6 separate regions of the Homo sapiens genome follow, and regions 1, 2, 3, 4 and 5 are each reported to be linked to region 6. Evidence: microRNA targets listed by miRTarBase, many of them from high-throughput screens and not tested one by one. Region 6 holds a microRNA gene; each other region holds the end of a gene's coding sequence.
What was found. The annotated mature microRNA hsa-miR-4789-5p reads GUAUACACCUGAUAUGUGUAUG and lies in region 6 at 1,550-1,571, shown strand. An mRNA with a match to its seed (bases 2 to 7 or 8) in the 3' UTR can be bound and repressed. Matches are read on the target gene's strand: a 7mer-m8 pairs with bases 2 to 8, a 7mer-A1 pairs with bases 2 to 7 and ends in A, and an 8mer does both.

Region 1 (5,128 bases), not on the chromosome of region 6:
AATGAACTGATTTCTACATTACAATAATGGAAATTGTTGATTTGATTCTAATTCAAGGTTTACAGTGTCCTGAAGGAAGAGGACAATTTATGGTTTGGGAGGTAAAAGCATGCATACCAAATTAGTTTGATGGCAATTATAATTGTATTTCTTTAGGCACAATTACTGAAAAACACTTGTTAAGGACATTTGTCATCTAACAATTATAAATTTGGCAACAGTTACAACAAAACAACAAAAGCTCCAGAATGTTTAAAAGAAATACAGGAAGCAGAGGCATACTTTCAAGTGTCAAAAAGAAATATGGGATGGTTTGAGGAAAGCAAAAGTCTTCTTGTGATGAGGCTGACTAAAATGTCTCTCATAATGGGAAAAGTTTCACTCTCAGACTTGTTAATTTTATTTCATGTTCGAAGACATGCTTATTATAAAGAATATTTAATTTAAGGTTTAACAGTAATTAAGCAAGCAAATATGCAATATTTCAATTAAAGTTGAACTTGTTTTGTCTCTTAAACAAGCGAACTATCTAAAAAGTAGAGGCTGCCTTGTAACTGTTTCCTCTCTCACCAATTGCTACATCTGACTCTCAATCTCATAAACAAATCCATCAATATATAGAGTATAAAATTTGCATGTGAAATGGAGGTATTTTAGAAATGTTCTCCAGTTAATATGGCTTATAATAGCATCAAATGCATGCCTTTCACAGACGGCAAAACTTCTTGGCCAAACCCTGTATTGCTTTTATGAAAATATCAAATATATACATACCTTATTAAATTAGAAATGAGGCCTATACGTCTCAAAGCATAGAATTTAACAGTTGCTAATATTGTCATAATATTTTTCTTGACCTAAAAATAACAACTGTTGAAAATACACACACAAGAATTTTAGAATTTGAGAATATATCTTTTATTTATAGGATGAGAGTGTTAACTCTGAGAGAACATGGTATAATGAAACATATTAAAGACAGCATATTACTTCAATAAGTAACTGTGGTAGTAATGTTATTGTTAATTTGTATAATGTGTGTATATATTTTTCTGCATTTAAATTTTTCATTAATGTTTTTCCTATGAATATGATCAAATTATGACATCTATCATAAATAAATGTCATATTTTATTTATTTTAATTTTATATTCAAATGTTTTATTTTTCATCTTCTTTCCCCACCAAACACACTGATATGTAAATGTAATTGAGACACTTACAACTAATCTATGCAGTGTTGAATGCTGCTCCTGCAAAATACTCCATAAGCTAAAATTAAGTTACTTAGATATGTGGCAAAAAACCATGAATATGTGAGATTATATAGATTTGTTTTATATTAAAATAAATGCACAATATTTTAGCCAGCAATGCAAACTTATTATTTACATAAATCTTATATATTAATTTAGAGTATCATTAAAGTTTGTAAGTGTGCACATTTACACACATACCCATATACATATGCATATGTGTACATACTTATGTATAGTAACTCCTAAAACCTGTAAATGAAGGTTAGGTTTTAAAGGCTAAAAATGTGTACATGGCTGCTACAGGATTATACCTGTAGCATTAATATTGACAACAAGATGGTGTAAATTTGTCAGGCTTTTTCTTTTGATGTCTTAGGCAGTGAGACCACCTGGAAATAAAAATGAGAAATAAATTTAAAAAACACATTTCATAATTAAGATATCCTTTAACTAAGGTATGTCTGCCAACAGTAAGGGAATAACTGATACAAAAAAAGTATGATGGAGCAACTGGCATAAGGGAGTGTAGTATAATGGGAAAAAAAATGTCTGTCATATAGGTACCCCATACTTAAAGTCCTTCTTCTAGTCCTACAAGAATGTGCAAACTTCCTAGGTTACTATTTGTCAGGATCGAGTTACAAAAACAGAAACTATTCTTAGTCTTTCAAAAAAGGGACATTTATCACAAGTAGTTGATCATATAGCTGCATTAGGTATATATGATTTACTGCATTGACATTTCTTTTTAAGATCATTAAATGATATCATACAATTTAGCTGAATAGATATTAGGGAGTGAGAATTTTATTGTTGTTATTGTTTTCTCCTTAGAAATTTTAATAGTATGCTTTGGGAATTATAAGGCTTTTAAAGGGGCTTTTTGTTATTTCTTTAGTGGCCACATATGTTAGTAATAAACAGCCCCTACCCAGTGTATATAGACCTGCTTTACAATATATTGTCACATATATATAGTTGTATATGTGTATATAGTTGTATATGTATATATTGTCATATATGCATATAATCTAAGAGCTTTAATGAACATATTTTATAACATATGTATAATCTGAGAATTGAAAATACTCCATAGACTAACAAATCTAAAAATCACAATTTAAAAATGAAGAAACTGAAAATTTTTTTAAATATTTTAAATAATGTGTACTTTGATTTATATAGGTCATCTCTTTGTGAAGTATATATGCATGCTCACATAGAAACTCATACACACACACACATGCACATAGGCTTTCATAGAAGATAGGTATTTAAAGATGTAAAAATAGAACAAATTTTTTCCACTCTGAATGTGCCCAAATTACCAATGTACTTTTGCTTTGCAAGTGCATACAATCCATTTGAAATATGCATATATTTGTGTATGTGTATATATATGTGTATATATATACACATATACACACGTACACACATATTTTGAAATATATTTCAGAAGATGTATAAATATAATTTACATACAAATATAATCTATATATTTCAAAATATATATTTAGAATGATTTTCAAATAATCTACAGAAAATATTTTAATTGTAAATTTCAGTATGATAACATACAATGTCTGTATTATTAACAAATAAGTACACAACTAAATAAAAATGTTACACTTTTAATATAGCTATAATTTCCGCAAGAATTTGAACTAATGACATAATACCTATGACACATCTCACTAACAGATTGAACAATAAAAGAATTAAATTATTGTCAAAATAATGAGATTCAAGTAATTTAAATGTCAAAACTTTAAAAAATATTTACTTTAAAAATCAGATACTTTTTAAATTAAATTTTATTTTTTGAGCGACATAAGAATTGAACATATTTGGGAGATACATAATAATGTTTCAATACATATAATTTATAGTGGTCAGATCAGAGAAATTAGAGTATCCATGGTTTCAAATATTTATCATTTCTTTTTGTTGGGGACAAAATCTCCTTTTAGCTATTTGAAACTAAATGGAATATAATGTTCTTAACTATAGTCGTCCTACAGTGGTATAGAACACCAGAAATTATTCCTCCTACCAAGCTGTAACTTTGTATCCTTTAACAAATCTCTCTCTAGTCTCCCTTTGCTGCAGCTTTCCCAGCCTGTAGTATCCTCTGTTTTATTTTTTACTTCTATGATATCAATTTTTTTAGCTTCCACATATAAGTAATAACATGCAATGTTTAACTTTCTGTTCCTGGCTTGTTTCACTTAACATATGCCCTCCAATTCCATCCATGTTGTCCTGAATGACAGGAATTCAGTTTTTATGGCTGCATAGTATTCTATTGTGTATATATACCACATTTTCTTTATCCATTCATCTGTTGTTGGACACCTAGGTTGCTCCTATATCTTGGCTATTGTGAATAGTGCTGCAGTAAACATAGGGTTCAAATGTCTCTTTAATATACAGATTTCCTTTTTCCAGTAATGGTATTGCTGGATCATATGATAGTTCTATTTGTAATTTTTGAAGAAAGTCCATGTTGTTCTCCACATGGCTGCTCTAGTTTACATTCCCACCAGCAGTGTCTAAGAGTTCTTTTTTTTTTCCCGCATCTTCACCAATATGTTATTTTTATTTTATTTTGAGACAGTCTCACTCTGTCACCCAGGCTGGAGTGCCTTGGTTTAATCATGGCTCTCTGTAGCCTTGAACGCCTGAGCTGGAGCAACCTCGAGTAGCTGGGACTACCTACTGGCATGTGCCACCACGCCCAGCTAATTTTTACTTTTTAAAATTTTTTTGTAGAGACAGAGTCTCAATATGCTTTTTAGAGACAGAGTCTCAATATGTTGCCCAGATCTCAAACTTCTGAACTCAAGCAATTCCCCTGCCTTGGCCTGTCAAAGTGTTAGGATTACAGATATGAACCACCACGGCTGTCATATTTTTTGTCTTTTTGAAAATAGTCACCTTAATTAGGATGAGATGATATCTCATTGTGGTTTTGATTTGCATTTCTGTATGAATAGTTAATGTTGAGCATTTTAAAAATATACTTATTGACCATGTATATGTCTTCCTTTGGGAAATGTCTGTTCAGATCGCTTTTTCATTTGTTAATCAGATTTTTTTTTTTGCTGTGGTATTTTGTCTTATGCAAATAGTATTGTGAAGTATTAATGAAGTAAGACAATTTTATTCAAGGACCAATCCCATGCAAATACATTCAGAGCTGTTCTTAGTTAATTGCATTTATAATTTATACTTTTTATTACCATGTGCATTTCTCTAAATTTAGTGAAATTTTACTATTTTATATTTTTACTCAGTGTATATACTGTTGCTCATGAATTGTTGGAGTATAATAGTTAACTATCCTTAACTAAGTCTTATTTATTGAATTTATATGTTGCTGTTTTCTATAGGAGATAAGATTCTTTTTTTACAATATGAATGGAATCATTGCTGATTTTCTATGAATATATGAATTGAATTTTCTCAGATAAATCTTATGTTTCTTTTGTGCCCACAAAGACATCTGGATACTCATCAGAAGTGTAAAAATTCCAACTAGAAGAAAAAAGAAATAATTATTATTTCTTTCTTATTTCTATGAAATGTTATATTAGGAAAAGGATCCCTAGCATGTTTAGCTTTTAAGATGTTTCTCAAATGTTGCATAATTTCTTATCAATTTTCATTATTCATACCCATTCCCAAGCAATAGCCAATCAATATCGCATGAATGAGTAAACACAGAAAATACATTAAAAATTAAAAATGAATCTACATATTTTATATACCACTGCCACAAAATATTCCCAAATAAGGATTTATTTTTGTACTTAAAAATTTTCAATAATAGTTGCCTGTATGCATATAATATTCCTCTACATGCACAT
Region 2 (5,128 bases), not on the chromosome of region 6:
CTTTGCTATTTTGTTTTGTATTCCCCGATTACTAGGGAGATTGAAAAGCTTTACCTGTGTTCTCTTGACATTCATTTTTTCTTCTTCTGTGAATAGTCTATTCCTGTACTAATGTTAATGTACTAATGGATTAATATTTTTTAACTGATTTCTAACCATTTAAAAATACATTATGGACTCTAATTCCATACTAGGTTATGATAGTACCTTTATTTTTTTAAATGATATATTTATTTTGTATCATAAAAAATAACATGTTTATTATAAAAAATTAGAAAATAAAGAAACACATTATAAAGAAACATAAAACCCCTGTGATCACATTTCCCAAGAATAATAACTATTTTCAATTTGGGATCTATCATTAGAGTTTTTTCTTGTTATGCATATATACCTTTCTGTTTTAAAAAGCTAGGATTGTATTATACATATACCTACTTTATTGTTCAGCTTTTTTAGCGTTTAGTCTTTCACTTAATGGGTAGCACTCACCTAGCTGGTAAGCTCAATGAAGGTAAGGGCAGTATTTTATACTATTTGGAGTCTTGCATAGCACAGAGTCTTTAGTAAAAATTTATTAAATATTGACTTGCTGTTTCCTCCATTTCAGCACATCCAGGTGTGAATGGTGTCATGGTCCCAAGTTTGGTGAAGGTTTTCGTGTCATCCGATCCTGTGATATTTTTGGAGCATCACAGCTTCCAGTTATGTTTTATGTCTGTTCTCCTTCTTGCTATAGAAGAATAAAGGAAAGCAGTTTTGTTTTAGATGGTAGTCCTAGTAGAAGAATAGCTCTAGATGTGGAGTTGTCAAAAGAATTATAGTACAATGATTTATCGTATGTGTGTGTATATATATATATATATATATATTTATATATATATATATTTATATATATATATTCATATATATATATAAACTTTACTGGCTTTTACTGCATATATATCTGCATATAGTAATTCATCTCTTTGAAAGTAGAGGTTCTGTTTGGAAGACATAAGTGTCTTCTCATACGAATTATCTTTGTAATTCTAGCTCCTTATGAAAGTTTGTGATTGTTTGGGAATTGTTGCAGAATAATTACTCAAGGAGGATTAGTAAAGCCTTTAGATTTGAATAAAGCTCTAGAAAATTTCTTTCAGAGCCTGTTTACTATAAAAGGAAAAATGTTGGAATCCTTTGCAAAATGGGTTATGTCTTACAACTGGTCTTTTCATGCATCCATACTAAGTGATGAGATAGCATTGCAGAGTCATCAGTGGGGTATGTGCTGCATAGAGCTTCAATGTCACACATCCAAGTGCTCAATGCTTGTGCATTTCTGTGGAAATCTGACCAGCACCTTCCATCTCAATTGTAGGTTGTTTTGGGGAATAAAAGATTAATTCTATCCCCATTTGTTTGTTTAAATTAATGTCCCAGGTTCTTAGAGAACTGGTACAGTCTTTAATTGTTACCTTGAACTTCATGTCCTAAAGCTGAGCAACTGGACATTAGTCTGATTCCATAGGCTAGCACCAGCATCTACCAAGGCCTACAGTGATAGCCTGACACAAAAATAAAATACAGCTTACAAAATAACATTGCAAAGCAGCATATACATATAGTAAAACTTACTTTAAGAATTAACGTTTGGTAAGAGAAAGATAAAAGGGCATTTTGATATACAAACAACTTTAGAATGGCATAGAATTGTTTCACATATCTTTACACACAGTTCACTTAAATCTCAAATATCATTGCTAAATTTAGTGATATGAAATGATTTACACAGCTATCATCATTAATGTCAGAAAATATACATTGTCATGTTTGTGTGTATCTTTTAGTGATATCATTTAAATAAAGATAAATCAGGCAGAATAATTTTTCTATTGATTTCAATAAATTGCAATGCTTACACGCTTTTCCTTGAGACTCTGTTTCATTTTTCAGCAGAATCAGGTAAACTTTACTTTGCTTGATAAGTATACACTATATTCTCCAGCATAAGAATAAAATTATTTATAATGAGAGAAGTAACTACCATATTACACATGCATGCAGAAAGGGATATTTATAGTATGATAAATTAATTCATTAAAATGTAATATACTCATAATTAGAAAACAAGATGAAGAAAATAATACTAACTCCCTGTGGCATATAGTTTATTAATACTCACCCTTGTTCCTGAAATATTTCTTGGGGAAGAAATATGTTTATTTATTTATTCAAAACATGTTGGGTTTTGGTTTAACTGAGTAATTTCTCAATGAAATAGGAAATAAAAAAGAATAGCTTTCAAGGGAAATGACAAATTCTGAGGGACGTTTCAAAACTAAATATACCTAGATACTTAGACAAATATGAAATATACTTAGAACCCAATCTCTTCATGCTTAGTATAAACCTTGAATCTGAGTGATCTCTTATAGATCTTCCAAAAAAAGTAACTTACAGTATTTTTTAATGAAAGTAAGACATATTTATTATAGAAATATTAGAAAATACAACTAAACCTAAGAAGAAAACAAAATCCTCCTTGTAATGCCTCTGTAACTCAGGTTCAGTCATCCACTGCTTGCAGAGTCTGAATAACAAGAGCAAGGTCTGGTGGGAAAAAAAAAGTGACTTAATTCAAGAGCTACCCGAGGGGAAGTAGTACAGGCTCCTGCCCTGAGATACCACTTCAGCCTTCAGGGCAGAAGGCAAGGGCTTTTAAAGGGGGGATGGGGAGGAGGGGAGGAGGTGCGGGGTCTGTGTGACTTGCTTCAGATGTCTTATCTATCATGTGGTCTGGCTGGCGCCATGGCAGGCAGCTACGTTGTAAATTGAGGCAATCTCTTAGTGGGTGAGAGTTCCAGAGGGGCCTGATTTGCTTCAAGTTTTGGTCTCTGCAACTTCTAAGTAAACACATAGATAAGCTTGCCATACCTGATGGAGAGAAGGTAAAGGTTATAATTGCATTCCTAAAGAGCTAAGTAGGAAGCGGGGGAAAAGGAAAAAGAAAAAAAAATCATTTTTTTCCTTTTAAAAATGGGGTACTCGGCTACACCATCAACCAATGAAAGTCAGAGGCAATCATTTCAACATGTGTATGTGTGCATACATTTGTGTAATACATATGTGTAATACATTTATATAATGTATTACTTTTTTTAAAAATGGGATTATCTGCCTCACACCACAACAAAGATTAATTTCCAATTTTAGGCCTAAAGGTCTAAGTTGAAATATAAAAATAAATAGCTATGGTCTTTAAAAAATCAGATTTAGATTTTTTTAAAAGCGGGTAATGAAACCTCAAAGAAAAGATGAACAAATTTACCATGTAAAAAATTTTTAAATGTCTGTCGAGCAAAAATAACCAAAAATAAAGACAAGCAGCACACTGGGGAACATATCTATACTATATATGACCAGAAAGAATGAGGTTTTCAACAACAACAACAACAAAAAATATATATATATGTTGTGCATGTGTCTCCTGGCACAACTCATTCAGGACTCAAACTGTGTCATCAAGGCATTATCTAGTTTTCTGTCTATCTAATCTAGCTCACTCTATCTATTTATCTATCTATCTATCTATCTATCATCTATCTCTTACCAATACTTTCTAAAAATTTTGTCTCATATCCAGGTAATATGGATGGTCACTAATCATTCCAGGTTCATGTACAAGAATCTCAGGAACCTCAGAGGAAAACACACTGTCTATCCCAACTGTTACTGTAAAATACATTAGGGATGATTTTCATTGGCTCAGCCTGGGTCACAAATCCAAATACAAACAAATCATTAAAGCTTCATGGATGGCATACCCTGGCCAGGCCTGAGTCACATGCCCATCTCTGGAACTGGGTAAGGCAGAATTAGCCCCTCCCAAAACATACTAATTAGATTCTCCACAAGAAAGGAGAATTCTAGAACTGAAAACTAGGGGAAGAAAAAGTGTTTTGGACAGCTAAAATCTGGAACTGTCAGAGACCTCTAAAACATCCTGACATCCAATAAGCTGTTACAAGTAGCAATAACAACAAAAGATGACCTTAATATAGCTATAACAATCAACATTTAATTTTTGTTTTTTACCATAATAAGTCTAATAATTTTCTGCTAAAAAATACTTGTGCGTATGTCTAAAAATATATTCAAGTATACTTACCACCAGGATATTTACAATAGTGAAAAACTGGAAACATTCAAAGAGTTCATCAATATGTATGTAAATCCATACAAGGCACTATCATTCAGTCATTTAAAAATTAGATAACTGTTTCCTTAAATGGAAAGATATCTACCAACTAGTTTTTGAAAAATATTTACTAGGTAACATAGTCACATAACTCAAAAGGTACAAAAAAGTGTATAGGATAAAAATTCTTTCTTTAACCCTGATGCCTGGCATCCTTTTCCCTTCTCAGAGACAACCAATGATATCAATCATTTTGTATTCCAGGATAGCTTATGCATATGTATGCTAACATATACATATATTTCTTCCTTATCTGTATAATATTAGCATAATATATACTCCTTTCTGCATCTTTCCATTCAAATTATGTCATAGAGGTTATTCCAGATCAGTACATTATTAGTTTATGTTCTTTCTTTATGGTTTCATATTATTCCATTGGGCAAACATATATAGCTTATTTCACCAGTTTACTACTTGATGGACTTTTAACTTTTTAACCTCTTGCTTGGAAAAAAATGTTGTGATGAATAAGTTTGTATGTTTACATATATCTGTGGTATAATTTCCTGGAAGTAAATTGCTGGGTCAAAAGGTATGTTCATTTATATTTAATTGGGAGTTGGGAAAAATATGTATTTATTTGCTTTTTAAATAGGTAATACTAGCATACTTTACCCAGCTCAAAAAAGATTTAAGAGTGAAAAGTCTATTTCACATTAATTTCCTTCAGATGCCCACATATTGTTAACCAGCTTCTTGCATTTACTTAAACACTAAGTACCTATAAGGATGCAGCTGTATATAGAAGAATTTTCCTTATTCCAGTAGTGCTTTTTTTTGTATTATATAATTTAAGAACAGCATTAGCGTCATTCATACACTTGTTAAAAATATGGATTCTCAGACCTACCTCCAACCTACTAAATCAAAATCTCTGGGAATACT
Region 3 (5,128 bases), not on the chromosome of region 6:
TTTGTTTGGCTGGCAGCCTGTTGTGCTGTCCCTGGAGGAGGCTGGGCCATGGGCTTTGTCAAGCACACCCGGGACAGTGACATCATAGAAGATGTGATGGTAAAAGATCTTCAGAAACTGCTTCCATTTAACCCTCAGCTGTTTCAGAACAACTGTGGTGAAACTGAGCAAGACACAGAGAAAATGAAAAAAATCCTGGAAGTGGTTAACCAAATCCAGGATGAAGAACGAATGGTACAATCTCAAAAGAGTTCTAGTCCCCTTTCTAGCACCAGGAGCAAGAGGTCTACTCTGTTGCCTCCAGAGGCATCTGAGGGAAGTAGTAGCTTTTTGGGAAAACTCATGGGCTTCATTGCTACCCCATTCATCAAGCTTTTTCAATTAATTTATTACCTTGTGGTAGCAATCCTGAAGAACATTGTCTATTTCCTGTGGTGTGTTACCAAGCAGGTGATTAATGGCATAGAAAGTTGCCTTTACCGCCTGGGCTCAGCCACCATCTCATACTTCATGGCCATTGGGGAAGAGTTGGTGAGCATTCCCTGGAAGGTGCTCAAGGTCGTGGCCAAAGTCATCAGGGCTCTCCTCCGGATCCTTTGTTGTCTGCTGAAGGCCATTTGCCGAGTTCTGAGCATCCCTGTCCGTGTCCTTGTGGATGTGGCCACTTTCCCTGTGTACACCATGGGCGCTATTCCAATTGTTTGCAAGGACATTGCACTGGGCCTTGGTGGCACTGTCTCACTGCTCTTTGACACTGCTTTTGGTACCCTGGGTGGCCTATTTCAGGTGGTTTTTAGTGTCTGCAAGCGGATTGGCTACAAGGTTACTTTTGACAATTCTGGGGAGTTATAAACTCAAAAAACTAATAGTATCCAGTCACAGTGAATTTGAAAGCTGGAATAGTTTGTCTTTACAATGGGTTTCTGTTCACTGTCAGTTATCATTATATTTTGGCCTTTGGTGGGGATGTCTGCTTGTTTTTGCAAAAGAAGATGGCAGAATTTAGACTTGACAGAGGAGAAATGCTCAGGGTGAGATTAGGTGTAGTAATCTGCTGTTTACCTCCAGTTATATGTGCAAACTCCCAAGCCACTAATAACTTCAGTTATGCACTCTAACACAGACGACCACCTGAAATGCACTGGTATTTATTTCTGATAATTAAAAATTACAGGGGAGGGAAGAACTAGAAAAAGAACAACTTTAGACCAAAGGTGTCTGAGAAAAGGAGAAAGGGAGCTTGTTCTTCCCATTGCTCTTTGTGATTTAAGGCAAAACAGATTAAAAAAAAAATCTGCAGCCAATTTCTTGGCATTTGCTTCTCTTTCTCCTCAACTCGACTGACCTTGGTGGAATGCAGATAATGCCTCTTTGTTGAAATAACTTTGTGGGAATGTACAATTTTCTATATCTCTTAGCTTTCCGTGGTTCTCAAGGATATGTACAGTTTTCATTTTCCTCCAAAGTTGAATTTTGCTACATTTTTCTTTTAGGTAATGATAAGCATTTTTTAAAAAATCATTTTTAGGTAATGGTAAGCATTTTATGCCAAATGTGGCATAACAGAGTTTGAATTGAAGGGCAAAGTTTTCTTTTCTTTTTTTTTTGGGCCCCTTGAATGGTATAATACAGTCCTCTCCGGTGGAAAGAAGAGAAGAGAAGGTGGACAGCCCTGCTCTTAGTAGGTGCTGCAGATCCAAGGACATCTTTTGTCCAGCTTGGATTAACTTGACGTGTATCCCTGCCTGACAAGGTTGAACTGAAAGATCTATATGTTAAGCTAACATGAAAATTCATATTCTGCAACATAGTAGATTTTTCTAATGCATGAAATAAGTACCCAGCACAGTAAAAATACTCTGACTTATGTCCCTAAATGGTTGTTTTGATACAACTATATAGAAAAGAGCCACAAAATAAAGATAAAAGTTATTGTGGCCATCTCTGAAAAAAATATATAAAATATTTAAGAATAATTATATCTTAGGAAATTATTTTTACAGTGTGTTTGAGGCTACAAACATAACTCCCCCATTAATACAAATTAAATGTGAGAGCTCATTCTCAAAATTTTTTTGATCAAGCACTTGTCATTTTAAATCTTGCACTAAAAAATGGTAACAAGAGGGACCAAACTTTGCTTCCCACAATTGGGATGGAATCACCTGGATTTTTCTGAATGTTTTAAAGAATTGCTGAGAGGTAGAAACAGCCAAGTATGAAATACTGATCTTGGGGCTACCGCCCAGGATCAATCAGAAAGTTATATGCAAAAATTCGGGGTCCCAACAAGGAGAGAACAATATGTCAACCATTTGCATGGGGTCGATGGATGAGAAACATGAGCGTAGCAAGAGTTACATTTTGCAGAAAAATAGCGGAGGCACACCCAGAGTAGAACAGCAGCCAGCAAGCTGCCATCCTGATCAATTTGTGATGCAAGGTTAGGGAGTATGAGCACCGCATGGGTCCATGCTAGGGAGATGTGCACCAGGCTTAGCTAAGAAACTTAAAGCAGTATTTTACCAACTCTTGTCTTAGGGAGCATAAAGTTTGGATGTCCCTTTATTTCAGCAGTGTGAAGGTAAATGGAAGGGTGAGGGTTTGACTTGGTACTGATTGGTCAAGAATCCTGCTGGATAAAGAAAAGGAATTTTAGAAGTGACCAGAGGGACAGTCCAGCCAAACTATTATTTGATAAGGAACCCAAGGCCCTGGGAGGCAACAGGCTAGCCCTTAGTTTCATGGCTAGCTGAGAGCAGATTAGGAGCCAACGTTGTTTGCACATGTCCCATCACACCTGAGATGTCAGACATGGGAAGTTCGTGCTATTATTCAGTTGCCTCTCTGGACCATGGCAAGATTTCCTCATTCATCAAACAGACTCCAGGCCCTGACAAAGCAGTTGGATTTGGCATGTGTGATGAAAACAATTAGCCATCCATGTACAACATTATGCTTACTGCATCCCATGGAAACTTAATTCCCTCCTAGCACATATTTGCATACTGAAAGGTCCGAAAAGGGCATCCACGGCAGCTTGAGCCCCTTAGCACCATGTAAGGAGCACAGCATCCAAACGGCTTCTTGAGAACCATTGGGGAATGTCTTTCTTTTTCACATCCAATTGTTTAGTGTCTATTTATTCTTGGGTGGCCAGTTTTGAAACCTAAAAAGGGACAATAAAGCAAAAAGTATCAGTAAGGATAGGTGGCTGAGACCCACTGCCCTGAGCTACTAGTGTGGCTGTGCCTGTGGGTCTCTAGAACCATCTGCATTGGACGTGAAGCCACAGCAGGTGGCTGGACTGCTGGCCTGTTCCTAATGAGCTACGCTGGGCTTTGAGGTAGAGGTTGGGGTTTATGAACCCCAACTCTGGCTTAAAGATCTTGCTGTGGCTCTGTTATGTTCTGAGGCCTTGGGATTAGCCTCTTCCTCATTATGGAGCTGATTTTCTAGTCTGTGGATCAGCTATGCCTTTGGACACTTCTCTTTTCCATTGTGCCTTTTGAATGTTGTCTTCTCACTCAGCATCAGCACTTCGATCTAAATGCAGACTAGGTAGTTGGGAGGAGGAACCAAAGTGAACCATCCTTCATTTATTCAGTCATTCGTTCATCTGTCAAACACGTATTTGGACATCAAGGTTGCAGAGATGAACAATGCATGGATTTCATCTTTGAGGAGTTCAAAACCTAGTGGAGAGAACACATGGTACAATCGTAACACATGAAGGACAAGTAAGTGCTGCAGTAAAGGTACTAATAACATGTTCCTTGGAACAGAGGAAGAAAAACCACGAAACCATGGAAATTAGGGAAGCCTTTACAGAGGGTGTGACAAAACTCAATTTGACATTTTCAAGCTATGTACAATGATGTGCACCTTGCAGATGCTCAATAAAGTAATTACTGACAACTCGTTAGCAGTTCTGTAAAATATCTAAAAGGGGAGAATCCTAATAGTTGAAATGAGGCTTGGGGACTGTGAATTGTTGCCATTTTCTTCTTGATCCGCATTAATTCAAGCAGCTTCCAGTGACTGGCTTTTGTTCATTTCTTTAAAAGTTTGCATCATACATGAAAAAACAGAGAGGTCTGGATCAGTGAAACAGGACTTAGAACTATTTTTTAATGTTATTGCTCTGCAAAGTATTTGGGACAATAAGTGTTTTTGATATCTTGCATAATTAAGCACCAAAGACTTACTGCTTCACTGAATCTGAATCACATAGAAAATTATAGAAATACTTTTATTAGTTTGTTTATTCATTAGGAAGCTCCCACAGTGAGAGAAATTACAAGCAGTCTCTGACGGGGGCTGGTCCTCTCTGTGGCCTTTAGTAGGGTGATCCTCTTGGGTGGAGGTGGCAGTAATTCTTGGCTGCCTTCCCAGTGTGGGCAGCATCTTGCCTAAGCTCACCACAGAATACGTGTTTGTCCAAATGTTACACTACAAGCCATATAGTGTGGACTGCTTGCTTTTCATTAATGGGTTCTCAGTCTTCCCATTGTCTCTCTTTGTAGGTATTTTCCCCCAGGTCATGGATTGATGTCTAACTCCAAATCAATTTTTAAGCTTAAATTTCAACAAAGAAAGTGCTTATAACCACTTGTCATCCTCAATTATCCATTGTGAGGAGGTGGATGTAAGATGACTTCTGGAGGCCAGTACTTCCTAATGATTAAGAGCCCACGCTCTAGAGTCAAAATGATGTAGGCACAAATCCTGGCTTCCCCACTTATTGTGTGATCTTCAGCAAGTTACTCACCTCGGCTTTCTCATCTATACAATTATGAGTACCTATCTCAAAGGGTTGCTATGAGCATTAAATGAGTTAATGAACATAAAGCATTCATCACTTACCATGCTTGGCACATGGTAAGTGCTCAGCAAATGTTAATTGTTGCTAGATCTATTGTGGGCAATGATATTTACACTTCTTGGACAAAATTGGTTTGATGGTGCCTTAGAGGTTAGGATGTTTCTAGATCAACGCTGGAAGAACCAGGATCAAAGTGTGGTCTGGGAGTCAAAGTCATGAATGAAAATGAAGCAAGCCAGAACCTCATCAGTGGTGTCCATGAATCTGAAGGTACAGATGAGGGTTGGACCTGGAGTCTCAAAA
Region 4 (5,116 bases), not on the chromosome of region 6:
GCTACCCTACTGGATAGTGTAGATTTATAAACAGGCACAGCCATTTGCCACAGTGAGTGGTTTGTGCCCTAACATGACAGTGTCAGACTCCTATGATATTATAATGGCAGTTATCAAAAATATTTGTTATTGGGGCCGGGCGCAGTGGCTCACACCTGTAATCCCAGCACTTTGGGAGGATGAGGCGGGTGGATCACCTGAGGTCAGGAGTTCGAGACCAGCCTGGCCAACATGGCAAAACCCCATCTCTACTGAAAATACAAAAATTAGCCAGGCATGGTGGCACATACCTGTAATCCCAGCTACTGGGGAGGCTGAGGCAGGAGAATCACTTGAACCTGGGAGGCAGAGGTTACAGTGAGCCAAGATAGTGCCACTGCACTCCAGCCTGGGCAACAGAGTGGGACTGTCTCAAAAAAAAAAAAAAATTATATATATATATATATATATATATGTTATTGGGCTGCCTCTGAAGTAAAGCATCACAAGGCTCTTTTGCCACCAGTGCAGCACTAAAGTGGTAAATAGTAGCACAGCTTTTGATGAAGGAGTTAAGGTATCAAGAAAGATTACCTTATGTTCCAAAGAAAAATACTTACAAGAAACGAGCCCCCTTATGAACCATGCTTCAAACACTGTTTCTTACTAGGAATTTTGCAAGAATACAGTAAAAAAAAAATTTTAAGGAATTCCTCTCCAGCAAAATCCATGAGATGGTGCATAGGAGTTATATTTACAAAGCATCATTGTTATTCTCTCTTGCATTGGTGGTGATAATAGCCAAGTCATTTCTGAGGCTGTCACAACACACTTCACAAACACCGTCTTTTGTTTTGAAATGTTGTAAATCATTGTTATAGTCCCCGTAATTATGGAAAGGCCATTCAGGTCAATTATTACTTTTTAACAGAAAAATTATTTGAAAACAAACTGAATAATAGTGGGTAAAATGATCTTTTATTTCATTGTATATAAAACATTGTCTTTCTTTTAACAGCAGATTGCTGTTCCCCGCAATGATGAATGGGCACGGTTTGGCCGAACACTTGCAGAAATTAATGCAAACCGAGCTGATGCAGAGGAGGAAGCAGCTACCCGAATACCTGCTTAGTTCCTGAAAAGGGGAGTGTAACTAGTGGATTTGGGAAAGGTTCTTAAGTAGATCCTGAGACTATTTGCATGCTTCTGTCTAAATGATAATTAAAAGGAAATTTCATGGATTAAACCATGGGTTTAATGCAGCAAGGAAACTTACAATGTCCCTTTATATATAACATGCATCTTGTTTTGGATTTGTGTCATTTTTTAATATAGCTGATTGACTTCACAGAAAGCAGCTTTTTTGAATTCTAATACATAGGTGTATATTTGGTATTAGTTATTTTGAGTTCTTTTCAACTTATAACACTGTATACAGTTATTTCTAAAGCACAGATGAAATAAGTTCTGCATATTTTTAAATAATCACAGTTCCCTGTTATACAGATAATGTTCTCACTACCCATAATATGTAGGAACATTGTTTCTCCTTAGCCGTAGTATGCATACACCTATCCATGTTCATTCTGACATCCTTTGTTGTCTTTATAATTCATGTGGTAGTTACCTATAAATAAAAACAAATATGCGTTAACTTTTCAAATTTTCATTTTTACTCCTTACAACTTGAATTTTTCCATCTTTTATAAAATATATTTTTTCCATATCTTTCTTTAAGCTCCTGCTGTGAGCAGCCATCTCAAATCCTATAGAGCTGTGTACCCTAAATATACCATGTGGTATATACTATAGATCTCCCAGTGCATTATGAATTGATGTCTAGATAATCTGTTGGTGAAAAAATTTCCCCTAGGTTAACTTTTGCTTTACTACTTTATATTCTTTCCATCTAAGACATATTTCCTTTAAAGGATAAATAGAAAGCTGCCTATAATTTTCACTGATTAAGAACTATGTATGTGACCTCACTGAGAGTAAAATCTTTGAGAGAAATTGATTTCATGATTTCAGTAGCCATAAAGGCAAAGTGCTCAAATGGACCCATACTTTGGCATTAAAATCTACATCTTGAGATCTGTTGCCACAGCATTGTCTACAAGTCCGAAAGGTAGGTGACAAATATCTAAGAATCAGTATTGAAATCAGTGAATTTCAGGAATAGAGGAAAGGACTATGATCAGATCTTGATTTTATCTACTTTAAATTGTCTATTTATTTGATCCCAACCTTTTGTACTTCTGAAGTGTAACTGTCTTTTATTCAACAGAACATGAACTAGGAAGAGAGATTAGAAAACAGAATGTGAACATTTTTCTTTTAATAATTGTAACAAAGATTTGTTGGGAGAGAAATTTCCAAATAATGAGTAGTGTATAGTGTAAGGAATAATTGACCTGGAATTATTGGCCCCAAACTCTGATTCTTGCTGAAGCATCTATGAGAAGTGTGATTTTAGCCAAGTCTGTGCCGCATTCTTTATATGTAGGAATTAAGTTTTGATTTAATGATTTCTGAATTTTCTTTCAGCTCTACTCAATTAAGGGGTATCAGTATGTGAAATGGAATATAGAAAAGTAGGCAATTCTTTACTTTTCTATATTCAGTTTCATAAATTAATACCCCATAATTGCCCATTATATACCAAAGACAATATCTCAAGTTATCTCATTGTAGCAGTGTCTGTGAGTCAAAACTTCAATTTTAGTAGAGTCACACTTTCTTTATATAGAAAAATTCATGTACTCACTACTCATGTAGTTACTGTATCTTTACCTTCAGTTTGTAAAAATGACTAAAAGTAGGGAAAACAAGTGTTAAAACATAATGGATAAGAAAAGGTTGGAAATCATATGGCAAATCACATGTTCCTCAGCCTCAAGGTGTGTTTAGTTGTGAAAGAAAGAATAAAATTGTTTAAATATTTCACTTTTTGGGAATGACTTCTCCCCTACTCCCCCAGAAAATGCGATGTATACCTTTGCCCATTCAACTTTAGTCCATATTTTTAGGAACACACAAATTTACTTTAAGGAATTACCTTTAAAGTTGACTATATAATAGCAAAAGAGAAAGTATTGAGACTGTCAGTGTTGATAAAGCTTCTAGCAAGATTAGGTTGACTAGAAGTGCATCACAGTTCTTTATACTTTTAGAACTAAAAGCCTTATAATTTTGAAAAATATCCAGTTACAGAAATTGTACCTTATCAGTTATACTTTTTTTCTGAGTAAGAAAACAAGCTATAGCTTTCTGGTTAATTTCTTATTTTTCGTTGTTTGGTTTTTGTCTTTTTGAGTGGAACGTTAAAGTTTATTACCTTCATGTTAAGGAATATCCAGCTTCACAGACAATTAACTTGCAATAAATCTCTGAAATAATCATTTTTTGGTATTATTTAAACCAAATATGCATTGGTAGAAGCTTTCTTCCTGTTTACAGATCCAGCTCCCTATAAAGTTTAGAAAATCTCTTTGTATAAAATGTTGTTACAATAATGCTGAAATACTGCATCTCAAAGGAATGGATGACTTAAAATTTAGTGGGAGGAACTATAGGAAAGTCGTTTTAGGAATGATTGGTCCTAGTCTTTCAGTGTTGTTAAAATGTTTTAGTCTGTTCTGTACTAGTGTGGATAGACTAATATCCACCCCTTGAACCATACAGAAAGACTTGAATGGATGAGTGAAAATCTGCTGTGAAGCATATCATACTATCTTTGCTTTATATTGAGTAGTGCATTACTTTTAAGTCAGAAAGCCAGTAGGTTTTTTTGTTTGTTTGTTTTTCCCTAAAGCGCTGCCATAAATTTCAGTGGTCACCTGCCACTCACTGGGCGGTGTATTTTTAAATGTCTTTTCCACAACCCCAGTATTTCAACATTGACATTCTAATAGTTTTCTAAATGAGAAAGCTGTATAATTAAATGTATGCTAAAGAGAATGGAGCTCCAAATGCAGCTCCAGATGCTGCTTATCATCTAGGATGCTGGTGTCATGTCTTAGTCTTCAGGATAAGCCAAGGTTAAAAAGCCAACAGCTTTACTTCTTGATGACTTAGTAATGGGGTTCCCATTGAGTTTTGTTTTTAATCCAAGCTACACAGCAACAAGAAAGGAGATCTTGCTTTCCTTAGGCTACCATCTTGCTGATTGCTAGCCCAGCAGTCCCCAACCTTTTTGGCACCAGCCATCATCTGTTTGTTTCATGGCAGACAATTTTTCCACGGACCAGGGAGGTTGGGGAGATGGTTTCAGGATCAAACTGTTCCACCTCAGATCATCATCAGACATTATTAGATTCTCATAAGGAAGGAGCACACACAACCTAGATCCCTCACATGTGCAGTTCACATTATTAGGGTTTGCGCTCCTCTGAGAATCTAATACCGTCACTTGCTGATCTGACAGGACGGGGAGCTCAGGTGGTATTGCTCATTCGCCTGCCCGCCCGCCTGCCTGCCGCTCACCTTCTGTTATACAGCCTGCCATGGACCACTACTGGTTCTGGTTTGCGGCCCAGGGGTTGGGGCCCCCTGTGCTAGGCAACTTAGAGACCTTACAGGTTTGAGGAAAAGTCACTCCCAACTAGGAACTTATCATTTACTAATTAAAAATTATTGATGCTGTGAAATTATTTACTTAGAGATCTGGCTTACAAATCTAGGGGTTCCTAATGCTGTCAGAGAATTAGAAATTGCCCCAAAGGCAGTATTAAGAGAACAGCCATTTTCAGTATTTCTTTTGAAGGGGAAGATTACAATTAGGAACCTTCTTTTAACCAGTTTTTTCAAAAGTTTTACAGCCCCCAAATGGTAGTAATTTGCTTGTATTGTATTATATTTTGTAAATCCTTTTTCATAAATAGGAAACATGTTATGGAGTCCATCTTAGAGAAAAATCCTACACTGATAACCAGAATACCAACTATAAAACTTGGAATCCATCACACTGGAATGCTTTTCACAATAGGCCAGTTCTCTCATTCCTTTTGTTGGACTTTAGGTATTTAGATTGTCTTTCTGCCTGCCATGTTCACAATTCCCAAACTTCTAAAAGTTCAAATGGATAGCAGGAATTTAAGTTTTCAGTATGTAGCTTTTAGCCACTGATAGTTTCCAC
Region 5 (5,128 bases), not on the chromosome of region 6:
GCTTGGGCCAGGCACGGTGGCTCATGCCTATAATCCCAGCACTTTGGGAGGCCGAGGTGGGTGGATCACTTGAGGTTAGGCATTCGAGACCAGCCTGGCCAACATGGTGAAACCCCATCTCTACTAAAAATACAAAAATTAGCTGGGCTTGGTGGCGCATGCCTGTAATCCCAGCTACTCAGGAGGCTGAGGCAGGAGAATCGTTTGAACCCAGGAGGCAGAGGCTGCAGTGAGCTGAGATGGTGCCACTGCACTCCAGCCTGGGCGACAGGCTGAGATGCTATCTCAGTAAATAAATAAATAAATAAAATAGATAAATAAATAAAAAGAACTTGGCATCTCTCTTGCTCCTGCTCTTGTCATGTGACACATCAGCTCCCCTTTCCTTCTGCCGCAAGTAAAAGCTTCCTGAGGCCTAACCAGAAGCAAATGCTGGCACCATGTTTCTTGTATAATCTGCAGAACCATGAGCCAAAATAAACCTCTTGTCTATAAATTATCCAGCCTCAGGTATTCCTTTGTAGCAATGCAAAATGGACTAACACAGAGACCATTAGTTTGGAAATTGTGTCAATGTAGACACCAGTTTTTAGGGGTTTGGGTTGGATTAATGCTGTCACTATCTTCAGTATACTACAGGCTTCAAATTCTTCCAGTGGTTGACTGCTGTTACCTTATGCTTACAGTGCACCTGGAGTACAGGAGGACTTTTCTGAGTCCCACCCTCAATTTTCAGGGATCCCTGTATGCCTACACCACAGAGAGGATCTATATTTACACCCTTGCTGCTTCCTCAACAGACTGGTTTTCCTTGTTACTTAGTGCTAGGCTTATAGCAGAGACAGGGGGTTTTTTGTCCTTGGCTAGCCTCGGTCTTAGGCAGGCTTTGTGTGCCTGGCCTTCAGGGATGTGGCTTTCTCAACATTCCTGCACCATTTCTCAATAGTAGTCAAAATCTGTTTCAAATCTATTGTTGGTCTTGTGCAACAATTTCATGCTCATTCCCCACTGGGAGCAGACCTCTTTATGTTATCCATGTGGCTTCCTGGGCCCAGATTTTCTGCCTATCCTCCAAGGTCAATTTTTGCTTCTACTCTTCCAGCAGTAATATTGTTTTCCTGTGTCCTGAAGGCAGAACATTTCCTACCTCTCTCTCAAAAGCAGATGGGTTTTGTCTACATTCCTACCCCAGAGCAATGAATTTCTGCCTGGGCCCTAGGAATGATTGTTGTTCCTCCCTACAATAGCCTAAGGCTTTTGCATCATTCAAGAGAAGAGCTTGAAAGCAGGCAGAATTTCATGGCAGCCAACTACCTTCTGTTTGCTTAAACCACCTACTGAGACTTTCTGGTTCCACACCCTGCTTCCAGTCTTTCTTAAGTCCTGGTGTAGGCCCTTGGGAAAGAACTTGTGAGTGTGTATGAAGTTCCCTTATTTCAGATTCTTGGCTATTCCAAACTGGTATGCTAGCCCACATGTACACTTTAGGAATTTCTTAAAATTTTTGCCAATATTTTACCTGTTTATATAAAGGCCATCTCTTTCTCTTGGGTTCTTCCTAAGGTTAAACAGTCAGTATGTCCCATCTCTCCTTGTAGGGCTTATCACTCTTTGGGATTTGGTTTGTTTGCCTTGTAATTTCAGTTCTTTGATATGTTCAAGAAAAAAAGCTTTAATTTTATAGATGACCCAGCCTTTTCTCCTTGTTAAAATGGGAATGACAGTCTCTTGAGGTTTTCCACATCTTCTTGAGAAGCAGAGCTCTGACTACCTCTACTAAAGTTAGTTGATTTTCTGTTACTCTCTTGTCAGTATCATTTCCATCACTGCACATATTAAAATTAGTAATTTTTTTACTTTGTCTCCTCCATTAGACTTTAATCCTATAAAAACATATACTACATCGCTTCATTGTTGTAATCTATTATACCTAGCACCATAATTGTACATATAGTACTCAAAACTAATACATACGACAGGTATTCATATTTTCAAAAACCAAAAACATTAACCCAACATACAGAAAATACTGTTAAAAAACATCCATGGAAATATTGATGAACAGAGGGAGAGGAGAGGCAAGAGCCCAAATGCAAACTGGGAAATTGTATTCTGAACCATCAGTTAGGTTTTAATTTATAACCTGCCTGGAGACTGTCTACAGTGTTGACTGAGTTCAAAACATAAAGCACAAATAAGAAAAGTATACCCCAAACCACACTTCTTTAATTAAGCTCTAAGAAAAACTCAAATAAATGAAATAGTAAAACTTTGATCAGTAATTCCTTATTGTTTATTCTCCTCTTACAAAAAGACACTTGGGACAAATAAATACAAAATGGCATATATCATATTTAGCAATGGGCAAATACACATTTTCTTGGTATTCTCCACAAGAATAAACTAATAAAATTTTCAGAGGCATACTCTTCTACCCATCTCTTACCCTCTAAAAAAAAAAAAGGCAATTATTTTAATTCCCTGTAATTTTTAACAATGAATTCTCAAAATAAGTAATCTAGGACTATTCAGGGACCAAGACATCTGAATCAACAAGTTAAAAAAAAAATGTCTGTATACACACACACACACACACACACACACACACACACACGATGTTGCCCAGAAGCTCCAATTAATGAAGAGTCTTAAAAGTTTTTCATTTCATATAGTTTGCATGAATAGAGCCTGTTCTATTCTAATCTCAATGGCAAATAATATAAAACAGAAAGCTGAACACAACATGTGTGTGTGTGTGTGTGTGTGTGTCTACTTTTCTGTCCTAAGAGAAAACATTAAATACAGGTATATTTAATATACAGTGAACATACCATGTGTTTTCTTAAAGCCAACAAAATCCTGATTTCCTATAGCTTGGAGGTGATACAGAAGGCAGAAGACAAATATCAAATTTAGCTAATAAAATATACCCTGCCTATTGGCTCCAGCAATACACTATAGAGTTTGAGCAATGACGGATACCCAAGTGTATATGTTTTGTTAAAATTTATCTTCAGGCTAATACCTGAAGAGGTTGGCTAATACTTTAAATCAAATATTCTTACTTAATGATTTATCCATCAAATGGAAATATGTACAACATATTTCAAATCAGAAAAGGGGTGAATTTTCCCCCTGCCCTTCAAAAAAATATTTTTAAAAATCCACTTGAAATAATTTCTTATTTGATGCTTTTTAATCACTTTCCACTTTATGACAACCATTTTTCTAGAAAGGCAGACAAGAATATAAAATGACTAAGGGGTCACTATGAAAACAATCAAATGGATTTGAAATTTACTTCTGTGTATTTTCTGTACTCCCTAAGTCTTGTGCTAATTAATTACATTTTACTTCATCCCCTGTAATGTTACAAATATGCACCTTAAAATAGAAAAACTTGCTTTTATATTTTAAAACCCCCTCCTCCTTACCTATCTTCCCAAATATTTTAAGCAGAAAATTAATCTTGTTGCTTTAAGGATTGATGTAATATTTGCGAAAAACAACCCCTAATAAACCCTTTAGACTTTTTCGAACCAGCACCAAATTTAAGGGGTTTATTCACTCTGAGGTTGCATGGAAGATGGAAATTAAAAATATCAGTATAAGTAGAACCACATTTAAGAAAAAGCACCTAAAGATGGAGGACAGATAATTCTAACATCCTACACACACACAGTGGTAAACCATATTCATGTTTCTATGTATGTAATAAGTTCTCCAAAAATCTAGGTATTTTTGGTTCTGGTACTAAGTCTAAATTTTTTTTTTTTAAATTTCAAAGGCAATTTAAAACTGGGGGGAAATACATTTTTAAAATTTTGGGGTTGAAGTTCACTACACTATGAGACTAATTTCGTATGTGGCAAGTTGCAACTCTCCAAAGGTGTGAATAAACATCAGAAAGCCCAAAGTGAAGAGCCAGTACATCAACATGCATGATCAGGAATCCTATGAAAGTCACAAGGCATTGGGATTTGGTGATTTACATTAACCTCCTCCTGGTAGAAGATAGTGTTTCATGATGAATGCAGACTGTGCTCACTGCTCATGAGACACACACATCACTACTGCTGAGGTCCCACTTTGTGATAATTTAGAAATCATCCAAATTTAACTCCAGAAAATATAAATCTGGAATATGAATGTGAAGACAGACAGTACAAACAGCAGTTGAGTGAAACCTGCCTGTAACGATCTTTATTTTTTTTTCCTTTAAGGCTACAGAAAATCTGTACATAAACAAGGCAATTAATTCTCATAATAAAAATAACCCCTTACAAATAGCCAAGGTGTCCAGTCAGATTCCATAGTGAGTATATGTTGTATCACATTTTATTCCACTTGTGTACTTTTTTGTGAGTCTGCTGGGTTAGGATCAATTCTTTCTGGAAATATTAGCTTCTCACAAACTGCTTCCTTTATTGGTAAATACTGGGATATTTCATTAGGTTCCGTGAAGAGGGAAGGTGGAACATGCTAGGAAATACATAAATCATATTAGCATATTCAGTTACTGTACTGAAATTTTTTACAAATGTTTTGGTTCAAGCATTCATAAAGCATGGAAATTTTAAAATCAGGTGCAATATATGCATATGTGCTCCTAAAAATAATAGGTATTTCTTGATACGGAATCATTCAACTTTGTTACTGAATGATTTCATCAAAGATCACAGGGTTATATAATCTATAATGTTCCCACAAATGTCCTAAGAATTTAATACATCTTAATCCAACCCTATGTATCTCCTGCTTTTGTAACTTGAAAACACTAGTCTTCGGTTAGAGCACAGCATGTAGTCTACAATAGAATCTAAGTAGTAACTTTTCTGTTCCAAGTATACTCTATACCCAGACAGAAGTACATACTAAGCGTGAAAAAATAAAATCAAGTTTATAGGAAGGTACCAATTTTTAAGCAACCCATTATAGAATCCTAAGTTCTAAGGAAGGCTTCACAGGTCCCGGGGAGTAAAAAATAAAGAAAAATGATGCCAAAACAAACAAATTATGGTACAGAATCACCACATTTTCGGAAGAGAAAAGGAGACTATGTAGAAAGAAATAAGGCGGCAGGGTGGTAAGTGTAAAGAACATCCATCACCAGCCAGCTATGTGACTC
Region 6 (5,128 bases):
AGCTCTTATTATTTTGAGATACATCCCATCAATACCTAATTTATTGAGAGTTTTTAGCATGAAGCGTTGTTGAATTTTGTCAAAGGCCTTTTCTGCATCTATTGAGATAATCATGTGGTTTTTGTCTTTGGTTCTGTTTATACGCTGGATTACATTTATTGATTTGCGTATATTGAACCAGCCTTGCATCCCAGGGATGAAGCCCACTTGATCATGGTGGATAAGCTTTTTGATGTGCTGCTGGATTCGGGTTGCCAGTATTTTATTGAGGATTTTTGCATCAATGTTCATCAAGGATATTGGTCTAAAATTCTCTTTTTTGGTTGTGTCTCTGCCTGGCTTTGGTATCAGGATGATGCTGGCCTCATAAAATGAGTTAGGGAGGTTTCCCTCTTTTTCTATTGATTGGAATAGTTTCAGAAGGAATGGTACCAGTTCCTCCTTGTACCTCTGGTAGAATTCGGCTGTGAATCCATCTGGTCCGAAAATAGTTACATTTTACAAACGAATCTCTAACACATTTTGGTATCTTTTTTTATACTTTGAAAGGACTGTAGCAGGTGTGTGTGAGTGTGTGTGTGTGTGTGTGTGTGTTTATAGCCAGTATGTATATATGTAGCAAATACGTTCATGTGCCATTTAATAATGGAGATGCTTTCTGAGAAATGCATCATTAGGTGACTTCATTGTTGAGAGAACATCATAGAGTGCACATAACACAAACACATTGTGTAGCCTCCTAAACAACTAGGTTATGTCGTATAGCTTATTACTTCTAAGCTACAAACCTGCATAGCATGTTATTGTACTGAACACTGTAGGCAATTACAATGCAGTGGTATTTGTATATCTAAACATATCTAAACACAGAAAAGGTACAGCGAAATATGATATAAAAGATTAAAAAAAATTGCCACCCCTGTATAGGGCACTTTTCATGGAACTTGTGGGAGTAGAAGTTGCTCTGGGTGGATCTGTGAATGAGCAGTGAGCAAATGTGAAGGCCTAAGACGTTACTATGCATTACTGTAGGCTTTATAAACACTGTACACTTAGGTTACACTAAATTTGTTTTAAAAATTAAGTAATTGCACTAATGTCACAATGAGAACAATGCCACTAGAGTTTTTCAGCTCCACTATAATCTATGGAACCACCCTCATGTATGTGATTTGTTCTTGAGCAAAATGTCATCATGCAGCACCTGACTGTATATATATGTAGCAAGTATGTGTGTGCCTGTGTGCGCGTGTGTATATATAAATGTTACATTTACATACACCTGATATGTGCATGTGTAATTATATATGTAACAAGTATGTGTGTGCCTGTGTGCGTGTGTGTACATATACATGTTACATTTACATACACCTGATATGTGCATGTATACATATATAGGTAACAAGTATGTGTGTGCCTGTGTGCGTGTGTGTACATATACATGTTACATTTACATACACCTGATATGTGCATGTATACATATATAGGTAACAAGTATGTGTGTGCCTGTGTGCGTGTGTGTGTATGTGTATATATACATGCTACGTATGTATACACCTGATATGTGTATGTGTAAATACATATCCACACACATAGCAGGTGTATATATAGGTAGCCTGTGTGTGTGTGAGTGCATGTGTGTGTATGTGTAGCAGGGGTTTTGTGTTAGAACCAAGAGCTTGGAACTGGTACAATGAAAATATTTTGCCTGAAAGATATGCTTAGTAAAAGTCCCAAGTTTCACACATTTTTGAGGCTCAAAGTGAAGAACTCAAAGTGAATTATTAGGTAATCATATCTACTTCTTCCTAAACCCTTCATCTGATTGTGTGCTAAAATTTAATACTAACTGATCTTTCCATCTCCATAAAATTCTTTGAGATAACAAAATCCTACATTCCGGTTTCTGAAGGATGGTATTCTGCAAATGTGAAAGTTTCCCTTAACCTCCAAAAAATAATTGGGTTAATCCAGCTACCACAAGTGTGAAATTGAGAAGCTGCTTGCTAAGATTGAATTTAATATTGTCACATGTCATCTGAGAGCTGCTTGTCTGATCATGTTGCCACTGGACAAAGTAAGCCTTACTACAAAGGATAAAAGAATGATTATTTCAATATCCAGTCATAGTTCATCATCAAACTCTGAGTAAAATGGAGAAAAAAAGACGTTTTATCTTATATGACTCTATGCATTTCTCTGGGAAGTCATTTATCTGGTTGCTATCCAGGAGAGCAAAGATAATGGGAAAAATCTTCCACTATTCTCAACTATAATTTTAAATATCAAATTTTAATAAAATAGGTTTTGGTTATTTCTTTTAAAAGCCCTCAATATAAGAAAATGAAATGTTAGAAACTTATTTTATAAAATATATTTGTGAACCATAAAACCCCATATAAAATGGAAATTATTATCACCATTAACTACTGATGCTTCTAATCTTATTCTGTAATGGTTAAAAAATGACTAGAATTTAGAGTTACTGCCAATATATGGGGGGGGGAGGGATTTTATAAAAATAGCTTTATTCATTTGCATGTTAAGCAAGAGTGTGATTACTGATGGCCGTAAGAGTCACTTGCTGCTTTAAGCTCTGCTCTGCTGCTGACTCTACATGTGTAGCTTTGAGAGGTCCTTTAGCCCCTCCAGCTTTCCACATAGGCAGGATGTGGCTATTGTACTTGATGATATGCCAAACATGCTTCTGATTCCAACATTCGATGGTTCTGTGATATTTCTACCTTATTACAAAAGACATTCACTTTAAAAGTATAAACACCGTAGTAACTTTTTTTCTTTCATTGTTTTCAATAAAAGGGTAATGGAAGTAAACTGACAAGTTTAGGAGGCTTTCAGAGCATAAAGGAGAAAGGCTGGCAGCTCTTGAGAACCTCTTTGCTTTCAGCTGAGAGCAAGTAGAGAATGCTTGCTCTCTGGCCCTGAATGTCATAACATTATGTTCAGAATCATTGAAATGTCTGACAACACTGTTGATTAAAAATGAGAATCATTAGGCCATGTCTGCCGTTATAGGATGAAGGGTAGTTTGAACAGTATGGAAAAAAACTATCCCAAAAGGATGATTTGTCTTAGACAATATTACCAAAATTTCAAATTATACTATGTATAGTAATTTGCAGTAATTCACTTTTTTTTTATATTTAGCTTCATCTTAAAAGTTCTCCTTCATTGGTAATGCTTTGAAAAATGCTGGATTTAGAATTATGAAGAGACTATCAACTAATATTATGGATGATATTATTATTATTATTATTTTTTGAGACGGAGTACTCGCTCTTTCGCCCAGGCCGGACTGCAGTGGCGCTATCTCGGCTCACTGCAAGCTCCGCCCCCCGGGTTCTCGCCGTTCTCCTGCCTCAGCCTCCTGAGTAGCTGGGATTACAGGCGCCCGCCACCGCGCCCGGCTAATTTTTTGGATTTTTAGTAGAGATGGGGTTTCACCGTGTTAGTCAAGATATGGATAATATTATTTAGAAACCATTCTGTGTGCTACAAAAGTCCTTTGAGAATGATATGAGCTGGGCACGACGGCTCATGCTTGTAATCCCAGCTCTTTGGGAGGCCAAGGCGGGTGGATCACCTGAGGTCAGGAGATCAAGAGTAGCCTGGCCAAGATGGCGAAATCCCGTCTCTACTAAAAATACAAAAATTAGCTGGGTGTGGTGCAGGGGCCTGTAATCCCAGCTACTCAGGAGGCTGAAGCAGGAGAATCACTTGAACCCAGGAGGCGGAGGTTGCAGTAAGCCAAGATCATGCCACTGCCCTCCAGCCTGGACAACTCCATCTATTAAAAAAAAAAAAAGATAACCACTAAAATGGCTATTATTCATCTTTCAAAATCTGTAATACCTGGAAGTTCTGCATGACCTTTAGGAAAACTACATCCACAAAGCGTTCCTTCTAGTTTCCTAATAAGTTTTAGAAGAAATATTGCCATTCTGAGCTAAACTAGTTCTACTTCCTTAGGGCAAATTCCTACCATAACATGAAATAGACAAATATAATTACTCTAAAAAAAGTCCAGCCATAGCATCTTAGAGTTTAAAGGAATAACCCTTAGGAGTTCACAAAATTTTTTTTCCACTGCTTCCTAGGCAGACCTCATTTAGTGTAGCTGGCGTGTTGCCCTGCAGACTTTACTGAACTGCTAGTACAGGAGTCGCTATGTTTTTAGCTAGCCCATTCAGTTTTTGTAAAGCTCCATCATTACATTTTTCATCATACTGACCTAATACCTAGCTATATTTAGCTTGCTCACGCTCTGCCTTCTGGAGCGAAAACATGCATGTCTGTGCATTCTCTATATCTACCTAGTATCAGTTAGAGTTTCGTGTTTTCCTTCATGTAACAGAAAACTCATTAACAGTGGACTTCTCCAAATACTTCTCTAAATATTTTTCTCACAAAATGAGAAATCGAATGAAGCGTTGGTGTTAATTCAGTGTCTTGAAGATATTAGACCCAAGCTCTCTGTCTTTTCCTCATGGTTGCTGATAAAGGCTGAAGCTATAGTCATCATTGTAATATTCCACTTGGAGAAAGAAGAAAGGCACATGCCCACTAAGGCTAACTGATCTTTTAAAGGGTCTGTTCTTAAAGTCCTGACCAACATATGCCTCATTGGCCTTAACTAAAATGGGATTTGATGAAATACATTTTATACCTGGGCACGTTGCCATACTCAATAGAATTGTAATTCTATTAATGAAGAAGTAAGGAAAAATTGGGGTAGTATCCAGCAGTTTCTGCCACACTAACCTTGCAGTATTTTAGGATGGCTGTAAGATCCCAACTAAGTTTTCCCTTTCTCTGGCTAAAAGCAATTCCAGTTACCTTGAGCATTCTTTTTGCCATCTCTCATTATGAGCATCATCATCTTCCCAAAGTGAAGTGCTTTCTTAAAATATGTTAGAAAGAACAGGACATAGTATTACGTTTGTGGCCAGACAGTGGTCATACTGTCTCCTGATCTGTACTTAGTGTGTTTTTGTTCAGGCAGCCTCAGAATGAGGAATAATTTTGGTAACTACTTGGCTGCAATTGAACATGCAACCAATCAAAGCCATATGAAATTGTTTTACATGGAATGAATTGAAGCTCAGAT

Region 1: miRTarBase lists TECRL as a target of hsa-miR-4789-5p. Seed matches in the 3' UTR shown: 7mer-m8 at 2,678-2,684 and 7mer-m8 at 2,670-2,676.
Region 2: miRTarBase lists LRRC63 as a target of hsa-miR-4789-5p. Seed matches in the 3' UTR shown: 7mer-m8 at 847-853.
Region 3: miRTarBase lists ENDOD1 as a target of hsa-miR-4789-5p. The part of its 3' UTR that is shown has no 7-base or 8-base seed match.
Region 4: miRTarBase lists DYNC1I2 as a target of hsa-miR-4789-5p. Seed matches in the 3' UTR shown: 7mer-m8 at 1,361-1,367 and 7mer-m8 at 2,369-2,375.
Region 5: the mRNA of TIPRL is a reported target of hsa-miR-4789-5p. Seed matches in the 3' UTR shown: 7mer-m8 at 2,576-2,582.

The regions. Positions count from the first base shown.
Region 1 is chr4:64,275,404-64,280,531 of GRCh38, forward strand. It overlaps TECRL (trans-2,3-enoyl-CoA reductase like), which reads right to left. Exons shown (of 12, transcript NM_001010874.5): 12 at 2,299-4,796. The coding sequence ends at 4,669. Among named protein-coding and RNA genes, the nearest start is that of TECRL, 130 kb to the right of the region's middle.
Region 2 is chr13:46,275,980-46,281,107 of GRCh38, forward strand. It overlaps LRRC63 (leucine rich repeat containing 63), which reads left to right. Exons shown (of 10, transcript NM_001282460.2): 10 at 611-1,136. The coding sequence ends at 824. It overlaps LOC105370194 (a long non-coding RNA gene), which reads right to left. Exons shown (of 3, transcript XR_941946.4): 3 at 1-733. It overlaps LOC124903170 (a long non-coding RNA gene), which reads right to left and starts at 3,862. Exons shown (of 2, transcript XR_007063785.1): 1 at 3,807-3,862; 2 at 2,445-2,916.
Region 3 is chr11:95,128,728-95,133,855 of GRCh38, forward strand. ENDOD1 (endonuclease domain containing 1) reads left to right here. Exons shown (of 2, transcript NM_015036.3): 2 at 1-3,918. The coding sequence ends at 852. Among named protein-coding and RNA genes, the nearest start is that of LNCRNA-IUR, 19 kb to the right of the region's middle.
Region 4 is chr2:171,746,779-171,751,894 of GRCh38, forward strand. DYNC1I2 (dynein cytoplasmic 1 intermediate chain 2) reads left to right here. Exons shown (of 18, transcript NM_001378.3): 18 at 998-3,380. The coding sequence ends at 1,111. Among named protein-coding and RNA genes, the nearest start is that of DYNC1I2, 62 kb to the left of the region's middle.
Region 5 is chr1:168,199,257-168,204,384 of GRCh38, reverse strand. TIPRL (TOR signaling pathway regulator) reads right to left here. Exons shown (of 7, transcript NM_152902.5): 7 at 2,276-4,482. The coding sequence ends at 4,339. Among named protein-coding and RNA genes, the nearest start is that of TIPRL, 23 kb to the right of the region's middle.
Region 6 is chr3:175,368,003-175,373,130 of GRCh38, forward strand. It overlaps MIR4789 (microRNA 4789), which reads left to right and starts at 1,538; the gene lies at 1,538-1,619. All of the region lies in intron 5 of NAALADL2 (N-acetylated alpha-linked acidic dipeptidase like 2), which reads left to right.